2 linked regions of the Homo sapiens genome follow. The protein of the gene in region 2 interacts with the protein of the main gene of each other region in a pairwise test. Each region holds a gene or a part of one and is shown on either strand. Other genes may lie near its edges.

What was found.
Region 1: the proteins of DMAC2L (region 2) and EVX2 interact in binary tests that used the Homo sapiens proteins (3 or more experiments, as listed by UniProt).

The regions. Positions count from the first base shown.
Region 1 is NC_000002.12:176,076,971-176,080,996, forward strand, and holds the end of EVX2 (homeobox even-skipped homolog protein 2), read right to left. Parts: intron 3,869-4,026; coding exon 3,137-3,868; 3' UTR 502-3,136; downstream 1-501.
Region 2 is NC_000014.9:50,307,683-50,315,338, reverse strand, and holds the start of DMAC2L (ATP synthase subunit s, mitochondrial isoform a precursor), read right to left. Parts: upstream 3,016-7,656; 5' UTR 2,950-3,015; exon of another isoform or gene 1,076-2,949; coding exon of another isoform or gene 949-1,075; intron 881-948; exon of another isoform or gene 749-880; 5' UTR 713-748; intron 1-712. Other genes in the region: L2HGDH (L-2-hydroxyglutarate dehydrogenase, mitochondrial), read left to right, coding at 3,189-3,328. UniProt on the Homo sapiens protein: Involved in regulation of mitochondrial membrane ATP synthase. Necessary for H(+) conduction of ATP synthase. Facilitates energy-driven catalysis of ATP synthesis by blocking a proton leak through an alternative proton exit pathway.

The DNA of each region.
Region 1 (4,026 bases), on a different chromosome or scaffold from region 2:
GGAACTAGTAAGGGAGGGCTGAGCTTGAAGAGGGCTGAGCTCCTATTAAGAGTGAACTTTTTCCTTGAATTAAATATTAATATTTACTTCATAAGTGGGAGAATAAAAGTGGGCAAGTTAATTAGATAGAGGAATTAATTTTGTTTACCTTTGTAGTACTGCAAACATAAACAGCTCCTAACCCTGTGTACACACTCCCTATATATATGACGGCACGTCCTCTACCATGTGTATCGACACACACACTACTCCTAAACACTCTTATCTGTTTAGCCAGCCAATTAACGTTAAACCAATGTTTGGAAGAGTGCATGTCTCCTATAAACATGAGTAATGTATTTGCCATAAAAATAATGATTAGAATGAATTAATCCATCTGATATGTGTATTATATGGATTTAAACATGTTGTTTTAAGAGATTCTCATAACCCTGGATGCCACAGTTAAAAACGAACACTAGCACAAACCATTTTGCAATCTCTTAAACAAATAAAACTGCCTTGATTTAAATAACATTTATTTTACATGACCAAACACAATAAATAACGTAATATACAAGGCTTTATAATTATTGCACATTTGTAAAATATCTTACAGTGAGTTCATACATCCAGCAATATTTAAAGCACGAAGACTTTATTTACAATTTTATTTCAATATAATAACCAGATCCAATGGACCCAACAAATGATGAATTTATGTTAATTTTACCAACCAGCGTTCTCATCAATCATATATATTTTTTGGGGGAAATGTAAACATTACTGCCTAAAGTACCTTATATACATCTGTTAGCTGATCATAACAAAGGACTTTAACAATCTAAATAGGTAAAGCTGATAAAGGGTACCATATTTTGGTTTATTTTATTTAGCCTTAAATTATATATTAATATTTTTAAAAATGTAAACTCAGTGAATAAGAGCTGGTATAATCAATATTTTACATAAGTAGTCTCATGTTTTTAAAAACAAAAACAAAAACTTAAGTTTTAGATCATTGCTATTTCATTGGAAAGTTCTCTAATATTTTATGGTAATATTTTAATAGACCCCAGGAATTTCGAAATACTGTTTCCCCTTTATGTATTTTCCATTTGATGGAAATAATTTCTCCTGGAAAACTAATTCTTTCAAAAGTTTACTGAAAGCCTATATTTAGGAAATGATATTTTAAAATCCAGTGTCTTTAAAATAACAATATGATGGCAGGACACAAATCTGAAATAAACCACAGAAAATAGTGCCAATGTGTATGTATACATGAATATGTGTGTATCTCTTACATATGTATTTAAGAGCACGGATATATATATGCATATACATACATATACATATATATACACATACACAAACACATGTAGGTAGCCTACCTACATTTTAATACACGTACACACACATACCCACTTCGCTGGGTCTAAACATGCACTAGCAAGTTATTTTAGGGCTTCAACTCTTCAGAAAATCTCATTATGTGAGGAGCCAAGTGGCTCTGCGGGGAGCATTATGGAAATATCTGGGCTTGATTTAATGAGGCTGTTCACACTGGTGGAATATCAACTTAACAGAGAAAAGTCTACCCAGGGCGTCCAAGTTACCAAAATGAAAATCGGCAATTGAGATGATAAGAACGTGGCTTTCTTCTGCGAAATCACTTCAGGTAACAGAGATAACATTAAATAACATACATTCTATGCACCAAGAACAATGTTTTATGTACCGAGTCTCTTATCCGTCTCTCCTAATGACTTCCCTTAGCGGGTTGTTAGTACTTGACAGCAGGTCTCCGTGCGGGGAACTTTTCTCCAATTCCACATTCAAAGGAGGTCCATCAGAGAGCATGATTGGCAATTTTCGTCATAATCTGCACATTATTAGCATCAAACTTGACGTGGCAGTTAACACTAGTGGGTTTTGATGTACCTTTCTTCAAGTTCAAGGAAACCCCTCCAGTAGCCGGGTTGGCAGAGCGGGTCTCAGCAACCCAGCGGTGGCTTTGCAGAGGCGAAGGCGCAATAGACATGCGTGAGAAATATGCCAAGAACCATTTCACCCGAGGAAAAGGAAAGCGAGGAGAGAAGGGGACGAGGGACATAGAGAGTTCTAACTTAGAAAAGTGTCTAAGGAAATGCTTTAGGATAATATTAATATATCTAGAGATTCAAGTATTTCCCAGATCGAGTGGAACCCGGTAGTTGGAAAACTGAGCTGAAAACGCCTCTCCAAATACTACAGCGATCTATCAGTCTTACCCCTACCCCAACTCCCTTCCTTTCCCTTCCCTGGCCGTGGCAACCTCTTTTGCCATCACTTTTTGCATAAAATATGCAAGATGCTTCCATTCCATCAGCACTGAAACCAAAGACCAAAAGAGAGAAAGGTGTTGGACCGAAAAGGAGGCGGCGCAACGGCCACCCCTTCCAGCACCTCGGCTTTGTCCTTCCCGGGGAAGGCGGCCACATCCCTACCCGCCTTGCTCCTGAACGTAGTAAACAATCTCACAAACAACCACCGCTGCCCACGCTCTCCATCCGTCCTCCCGGCCTTATCAGACCTCCGTTCTCCCGCACTCTTCGGGCAGGGTCCCTAATAAGCTCAGGCTGAAAGAACGTTTGCCACCTCCCCCACCCTCGTTGAAAGAAAAGGAAGAAAAACAGCAGCAGCGAGAAACCTCCGGGGCGACTCCTCCCCCGCCCCCAAGCACCAGCGCACAGCATCCCCCTCTGTCTTTGTTGTGGTTCTCCGTTGCTTCGGGCCACGCCGTTCAGCCAAGCAACCCGGACCTGAGAGTGCACAGCCAGGACTAGCTTAGGGGGCGAGGGGTTGGTCTTTGGGAAACCAAGCGCTCAGGACAGAGGTGGAAAGTGGGTCCCGGGAGCCAGAAAAGAGAGAGAAGGGCAGACGGCTGGGTGGCAAATACAAAAATAGAAATAATTTAGGGGGATGCCCGCCAGGCTTTTGCGCCTGCTCCTTCTCCCCCAATTCGGAGCAGGTTCCCTTCGGCCTCCCGCGCCCCGGGGCGCCCCCTGGCGGCAGCGGCAGCAGCGGGCAACGCGCGGAGGGCTCAGGGGGCGCACAGGGGACTCCCGGGCACACTCAGAGAGGCGGGCGCGGCCCCCTGGCGGTGGCGACGTAGTTATCTGGTGAGCGGAGCCTCGTCCCTCTGGTCCGGCGGGCTCACGGCCGTCTTACTAAGCACCGCGGCCGAGTAGGGCAGGAAGCCGCTCTCGGAACGCGGCGCCGCCGCGCTGCAGCCGAAGTCCGAGCCTCCCCCGGCCCCGGCGCCCCCGCCGCCGCCGCCACCACCACCACCGCCGCCGCCACCGCCACCCCGGGAACCCAGGGCTGCGGCAGCTGCTGCCGCGGCTGCCGCCGCCGACTGACTGCTGTGGCAACTGAGGCACGAGCAGGGTGCAGAGCCGCCGCTGGGGGGCGCGCCGGCCGCCGCCGCCGAGGAGGCCGCAGCCGCTGCGGCTGCCGCGGCTGCCGCGGCAGAGGCCGCGCTGTTGAGCCCCGCGGCGGCCGCGGGAGCCTGGTAGAGACCAGGGTGGCGGAAGCTACACAGCAGCTCCGGCCGAGAGTAGGGGTGCGAGAGGGCGCGGAAGGTGTCCAGTGGCCGGATGGAAGTAGCGAAGGGCGACGAAGCCGCGGCCGCCGCGCCTGAGGCTGCAGCCGCGGCCGCCGCCGCCGTGACGCCCACGTGCGGGTAGTAGTGCAGCGGCACGTGCGAGTGGAAGGGGTAGGGCAGGCTTCCGGTGGCGGCCGCGTGCGTCATCATGTAGGTGTAGAAGCTGGGGTCGGCTGGGTGCGGCCAGGACATGGCCAGGCGCTGCCGCTTGTCCTTCATGCGCCGGTTCTGGAACCACACCTGCGGGGAGAGACGCGCCGCAGCCTGGGTTAGGGAGCGCCCCGTGTTCCCAGCTCCTGTCCCAGGACCTCTGCCCCTTCCGGACCTCTGAATGGCTTGGTCTACTTCTCTCCGACCAAGCCCAACCCCGAGTACCCTGTGGTCTCCCAGCTGGGAAA
Region 2 (7,656 bases):
CAAACATCGTATGTTCTTACTCAAAAGTGGGAGCTAAGCTATGAGGATGCAAAGGCATAAGAATGACATAATAGGCTGGGCGCAGTGGCTCATGCCTGTAATCCCAACACTTTGGGAGGCCGAGGCGGGTGGATCACGAGGCCAGGAGATTGAGACCATCCTGGCTAACACGGTGAAACCCTGTCTCTACTAAAAATATAAAAAATTAGCCGGGCATAGTGGCAGGTGCCTATAGTCCCAGCTACTCAGGAGGCTGAAGCAGGAGAATGGTGTGAACCCGGGAGGCAGAGCTTGCAGTGAGCTGAGATCATGCCACTGCACTCCAGCCTGGGTGACAGAGCGAGACTCTGTCTCAAAAAAATAAATAAGCAAATAAATAAAAAAGAATGATACAATAGGCTGGGTGCAGTGGCTCACACCTGTAATCCCAGCACTTTGGGAGGCTGAGGCAGGCAGATCACTTGAGGTCAGGAGTTCAAGACCAGCCCGGTCAACATGGCGAAACCGCATCTCTACTAAAAATATGAGAGTTTGCCGGGCGTGGTGGCATGTGCCTATAGTCCCAGCTACTCAGGAGGCTGAGGCAGGAGAATTGCTTGAGACCAGGAGGCAGAGGCCGCAGTGAGTTGAGATTGCACCACTGCACTCCAGCCTGGGCAACAGAGCATAACCCTGTCTCAAAAATAAAAATAAAAAATAAACATGCACTTACCATATGACCCAGCAATTGTACTCTTGGGCACTTATCCTAGAGAAACAAAAACAGGTTCACACAAAAGGCTGTACACTCATGTTCACAGCTGCTTGATTCACAATAGCTAAAAACTAGAAACAACTCAAATGTCCTTCAATGAGTGAACAGTTGAATGTACTTGTATTAGTCCATTTTCACACTGCTGATAAAGACATACCCGAGACCGAGAAGAAAAAGAGGTTTAATGGACTTACAGTTCCACATGGCTGGGGAGGCCTCACAATCATGGTGGAAGGCAAGGAGGAGCAAGTCACATCTTACATGGATGGCAGCATGCAAAGAAAGAACTTGTGCAGGGAAACCTCCCGTTTTTAAAACCATCACATCTTGTGAGGCTCATTCACTATCTGGAGAACAGCACAGGAAGGACCTGCCTCCATAATTCAATCACCTCCCACCTGGTTCCTCCCACAACACATGGGAATGGTGAGTTACAATTCAAGATGAGATTTGGGTGGGGACACAGCCAAACCATATCAATACTGTAGTACATCTACATTATGGAATACCACTCAGTAATAAAAAGGAAGGAACTACTGATACATGTAACAGTTTGGATATATCTCAAGGGATTATGCTGAATGAAAAAGAGTCAATAAAAGTTACATACTGTATAATTACAATAATTACATTTATGTAACATTCTTGATATAACAAAATTTTAGAAACAGAGAATAGATTGGGTGGGGCTGCAAAGGTAAGTTGTGGTTATAAAAGGGCAACTGGAGGGACCCTTGTGGTGATGGACCTGGGCTGTACCTTGACTGTGGTGGTGGATACAAGAATCTACACACCTGATAACCATATAGAACTAAATATACACAGAGAACACTAATACAAAATGAGGAATCTGAATGAGATCAATGGATTGTGTGAATGTCAATTACCTGGTTGTGATATGGTACTAGTTTTGCAAGATGCTACCACTGGGAAGACTGGGTAAAGGGTACACAGAATCTCTATTCTTACAATTGCATGGAAATCCACAATTACCTCACAAAGTTGAATAACCATCTCTTTTTTTCATCTGTGATGGAACAAGCAGGCAATATTCTACATTGTTTTAACAAATAAAGCAAACTATGTACCACTGTTCTGGTGGTAAAACCCTTTAACCATAATAAATGTCATCACGTAGCAAATGCTTCACTGTGCTAAACACCTGCTGACCTTATCTCGTGTAATCCGCTCAACGGCCCTAAGACTAGGGAGACACTGCTATCATTCCTAGTTCACTGAGGAGGGTCTGAGGCAAAGAGGTGAAGTGATTTCCTGGAGCTACCTGACCAAAGACTGGAACCAAGATTCTTAGAGGCACACGAAGTCCTTCTGGTAATAAATCTGTATAATTCTATTTGTTATGTTCAGCTGTCCTAACCCTAAAAATTAAAAACTGCCATCAAGCATACAGAATGAGTGTTAGCAACACCGGCACAGTGACAATTTTAAAGAGTTAGAAGGTCCTTTAGAGATTACACAGCCCATCGCCCTCATTTTTACATAAAGGGAATCAGGTGAAGTGACCTGCACAGGTGAGTCGCTGCTCAGAGACCGCACAGCACATTTAAAACTGTATCTCGGTTCAGTACTCAAGAAAAGGACACAGACTTATAAATGGTGGCAAAAACCGAGCTGTCTGGTTCTTCCGGTACCCAGTGCCGGGTCGAGTACAGAGCAGGCGCTCCATATTTACAAGACGAATCAATGACTGAATGAATAGCACCGCCAGGAGCCCCATAAAAGAAGTCCAGAAGACTGCGGGCTGTCAGTCTTCGCTGTGACAAAGAGCCTCCGTGAGGAGCGAGGATTAGGGCCGGACAGGGAGCGCCCTTCTAGTGGACGCTCGACTGGGCTGGGGCCGGGATGGAGACGGTGGGTGCCCAGGCCCTCCGTCTACCGCGGGCCGCGTGCGGGGCCGAGCGAGGACCCGGCTGGAGCTGGAGCGGGGGCGGGGCGGGGGCGGGGCCGAGGGCGAGCCGGAAGAAAGAAGCCGCAGGGCCCGCCCAAACAAGAATTTTCACCGTAATCCCGCCCAGAGTTTCTCCCACGGCCCCATGTCCGCATGGCGGTGAAGGTCGAAGACGCGCGACCCAAAGGGCCAGGTTTTCAGTCAGCCCAGCGTTGGCGACGGGCGAGGGCAGAACACAACCACCACCCTAGTCCCGCCCGGCTCGGGGCCTAGCTTCTCTACTCACAGCGTCGGAGGGAGGGAGGGAGGGAGCGAGCCAGCGTCCCCGCGTCTGCGGCACCCTGGCCGGCCCTTCGCCCTCCGACGCGCGCGCCTATTGGCCACCGCAGCCTCTCCCACATGGGGCGAAGGCGCGCCACTTCATTGGCCCCCGCGTGAGGGGCGGGGCTAAAGAGCGCGGGTCCTCGGCCGTGGAGGGTCAAGTGGCTTCTTCTGAGCGCTGAGGGAGGGGAGCGTGCGTAGGGGATGGTGCCAGCGCTGCGTTATTTGGTTGGTGCCTGCGGACGGGCCCGCGGGCTTTTCGCCGGTGGCTCCCCTGGGGCGTGCGGGTTCGCGTCTGGGAGGCCAAGACCGCTGTGTGGAGGTAGCCGCAGCGCCAGCACCAGGTGAGTGGCCGCTGGTCCTCCCCGCCGCCTGCGCTGCTGCCCCTCGCGGAGGCACCTGGTGGTGGACCTGTGCCCCTGTTCGTATTTCCCTGTCCCGGGGTGAGAGCAGGTTGGGGTCCTGTGGCACTCCAACCTCGGATCCCAGGAGCTACCAACCTGCAGGTTCATTCGTTGTATTTACGGGCCGGAGGAAAGGCAGTGTATAGAGTAGAGGTCGGGAGTAGCTCTGGCTTTGAACAACCCGTCCACTTTCTGTTGAACTCTGGGCTAGTTACTTAACCTCCTTAAAGGCTCAGTTGTGAATTGGACCTTAGTCTCTCCTGTAGGTGGTCATTTGAAGGATAAAAGGACCTAGCACACAGTATAAGCAATCAAATATGCTCTTTATAAGCTGGAGTCTTTGGCGTTGCTTGGAAGATCTGAATACAGTCTTAAATCAGTTCCTGGCACACCCCGCATAGTGTTGCCCCCGTCGGAGGCAGCTCTTATGCTAATGAAAGCCCGCAGAATTCAGTGTCCTGTGATTTATAGTTTGGACGTCACATTCGAAACCATTGTCTTTCTCTGTCCTCTGTAGAAGAAACAGTTTGTGTGAAGGCTGTAAGGCTTGGAGAGGTTTTGGCTATTTTGACGACTAGAAGGTGGGCCATATGAGTGTGACTGAAGTTTAGTGGAAGACATATGGTGTGGAATGACCCAGAAGGACTACATCACAGCAAGGTTTTTAGTTTATTTTAACCACACGTTGACTTTTATTCTAAGAGCCACGGGAAGCTATTTAAAAGGGTTTTAAGAAGAGGCTACGCTTTAGGAGGCCGAGGCGGGCGGATCGCCTGAGGTCAGAAGTTGGAGACCAGCCTAACCAACATGGTGAAACCCCGTCTCTACTAAAAATACAAAAAAATTAGCCTGGCGTGGTGGTGGGCGCCTGTAATCCCAACTACTCCGGAGCCTTAGGAGAATCGCTTGAACCTGGGAGGCGGAGATTGCAGTAAGCTGAGATCGCACCATTGCACTCCAGCCTGGGCGACAGAGCAAGACTCTGTCTCGCAAAAAAAAAAAAAAAAAAAAAAAGAAAAGAAAAGAAAAAAAGAAGAGGCTAATAATTAAATGTTGATGTTCTAAAAGTTGACTCTGGCTGCTGCGTGTTGGTGGATAGGGGGAGTAGAGTGGGATACCAGTAATAGCGATTGTGATTTGTTATGGGGCATGTGGACAGTTCTTTTGGGAAGCTTTTCTTAAGGAAAGAAAAGTAGGGCTAGTGAAAGTTTTGTTTATACTTAAAATGTTTTTTTAAAAAATTTTTGGAGTCAGGGTCTCACTGTGTTGCCAAGGCTGGAGTGCAGTGGCACAATCATAGCTCACTGCAGCCTCCACCCTCCTGGGCTCAAGCGATCCTCCCTCCTCAGCCCCCCTCCCCAATGCTTCCTGTCCTCCAGGAGCTGGGACCACAGGCAGCTAATTATTTTCCTATTTTTTTGTAGAGACGTTGCCCAGGGTGGTCTCGAACCCCTGGCCTCAAGTGAACCTCCCTCTTCAGCCACCCAAAGTGCTGAGATTACAGGTGTGAGCCACCGTGCCTGGCCTATACTTTTATTTTGAAGTAATTATAGATCCATTGGAAATTGCAAAAATAGTACAGGCCAAGCGTGGTGACTCAGGCCTGTAATCCCAGTGCTTTGGGAGGCTGAGGCAGGAGGATCACTTGAGCCCAGAAGTTTGAGACCAGCCTGGGCAAAATATAAGATCCCTTCTCTACAAAATAAAAAATAAAAATAAATAAACAGTACAAAGAGATCCCATGTACCCTTCACCCCATTTACCCCAATGAAAACATCTTATATAACTATAGTACAATATCAAAACTAGGAAATTGATATTGGCAAAATCCACGGACATTGTTCAGCTTTCATCAGTTTTACATATATTCGTGTGTGTGTGTGTGTTTAGTTCTATGCAGTTTAATCATATGTATTAATTTGTGTAACTACCACCTCAATTAAGATATGAAAATGTGGCCAGGCATGCTGGCTCATGCCTATAATCTCAGCACTTTGGGAGGCCGAGGTGGGAGGATAGGTTGAGCCTCAGAGTTGGAGACCAGCCTGGGCAACAAAGGGAGACGGCAAAACCCCTGCTCTACAAAAAAATTAAAAAATAATTAGCCAGGTGTGGTGGCTTGCTCCTGTAGTCCCAGCCACTTGTGGGGCTGAGGCAGGAGGATCGCTTGAGCCCAGGAGGTTGAAGGTGTGGTGACCTGTGATTACACCGCCGCGCTGAAGCCTGGACAACAGAGCAAGACTCTCTTAAAAAAAAAAAAAAGGGTGGTATAAAAATATTCTATTGCCACAAGGTTATCTGTTGTGTTACCTATCTCTTTATATTCACACCTTCCTCTCCATTCTTCCTAACTCTTGGCAACTGTGAATCTAAATTTTTTTTTTTTTTTAACACGAAGTCTCGCTTTGTCACCCAGGCTGGAGTACAGTGGCATGATCTTGGCTCACTGCAACCTCTGTCTCCTAGGTTGAAGGGATTCTCCTGCCTCAGCCTCCTGAGTAGCTGGGATTACAGGCATGTGCCACCACGCCCAGCTGATTTTGTATTTTGAGTAGAGATAGGGTTTCACCGTGTTGGCCAGGCTGGTCTCAAACTCCTGACCTCAGGTGATCCACCCGCCTCAGCCTCCCAAAGTATTGGGATTACAGGCATGAGCCACTGCACCCGGCCTGAAATTTTTTATATCACCAAATATTCAGTATAAAACTTTTAGAAAAAGGACAAGATCTTTGGACATAGAGATGACATCAAAAGCATGATCTCTAAAAGAAAAAAATTGACAAAATGGACTTCATCAAAATGAAAAACTTTTGCTCTGCAAAAGACTGTTAAGAGAATGAAAAAACTACCAAGACGTGGGAAAAAAATACCAGCAACTGCATATCTCCCAAAGGACTAATACACAAAATACATAAAGAACTCTCAAAACAAGCCTTTGGAGATTGGCTTTTTTTCACACAGCATACTATCCTTAAGATCCATGCAAGGCGTCGCCTGTATTGATAGCAGGTTTTTCAAAATTGTTGAATAGAATTCCATGGTATGGATACATCACAATTTGTTTAACCGTTTACCATGGGTTGAAGAACATCCAAGCTGCTTCCAGTTTTTGGCTATTACGAATAAAGCTACTATGAACATTCATGTTCAGGTTTTTGTATGAACATAAGTTTCATTTCTCTGGAATAAATGCCCAAGACTGCAGTTACTGAGTCATGTAGTAAGTCCATGTTTAGTTTCTTTTTAAGAAACTGCCATACTCTTTTCCAGAGTGGCTGTACTATTTTACATTCCCACCAGCTATGTGTGAGTAATCCAGTTTCCCTTCATTCTCACCAGCATTTGGGGTGATCACTTTTTAAATTTTAGCCATTCTGATAGAGACGTAGTGATATCTCATTGTGGTTTTTATTTACATTTCTCTGATGCAATGATGTTTGAACAATGCATTGACTAATGGTGTTGAACATCTTTTCATGTGCTTCTTTGCCATCTGTGTATCTGTCCTCTTTGATGAAATATTTGTTCATATCTTTTGCCCACTTTTTTTTTTTTTTTTTTTCTGAGATGGAGTTTCGCCTTGTTGCCCAGGCTGGAGCGCAGTGGCGCGGTCTCGGCTCACCGCAGAGGCCTCCTGGGTTCAAGCAATTCTCCTGCCTCAGCCTCCCGAGTAGCTGGGATTACAGGCATGCGCCACCATGCCCAGCCAATTTTGTCTTTTTAGTAGAGATGGGGTTTCTCCATGTTGGCATGGCTGGTCTCAAACTCCTGACGTCAGGTGATCCGCCCGCCTTGGCCTCCCAAAGTGCTGGGATTAAAGGCGTGAGCCATCGCACCCGGCCTGCCTACGTTCTAAATGGCTTGTTTTGAGAGTTCTTTTATGTATGAGTCCTTTGGGAGATATGCAGTTACTAGTATTTTTTTCCAATTTCTTAGTTTTTTTATCCTCTTAACAGAGTCTTTTTGCAGAGCAAAAGTTTTATGTTTTGATGAAGTCCATTTTATCAGTTTTTTTTCTTTTATGGATCATGTTTTTGATGTCAACTCTAAGTCCCAAGATTTTGTCCTATTTTTTCCTAAAAGTTTTAAAGTGAATATTAGGTGATGTAAAAAATTTTGTGTTAGTTTTTTTAACTATAATGGTAGTGTGTGTTTTTAGAGATGCCTTTTAGAAATAACATTGAAATATTTACAGATGAAATAATGTGGTGTTTAAGATTTGCATCAAAATAATATAATACAGGAGGGGATGAAATAGAGTATAGAAG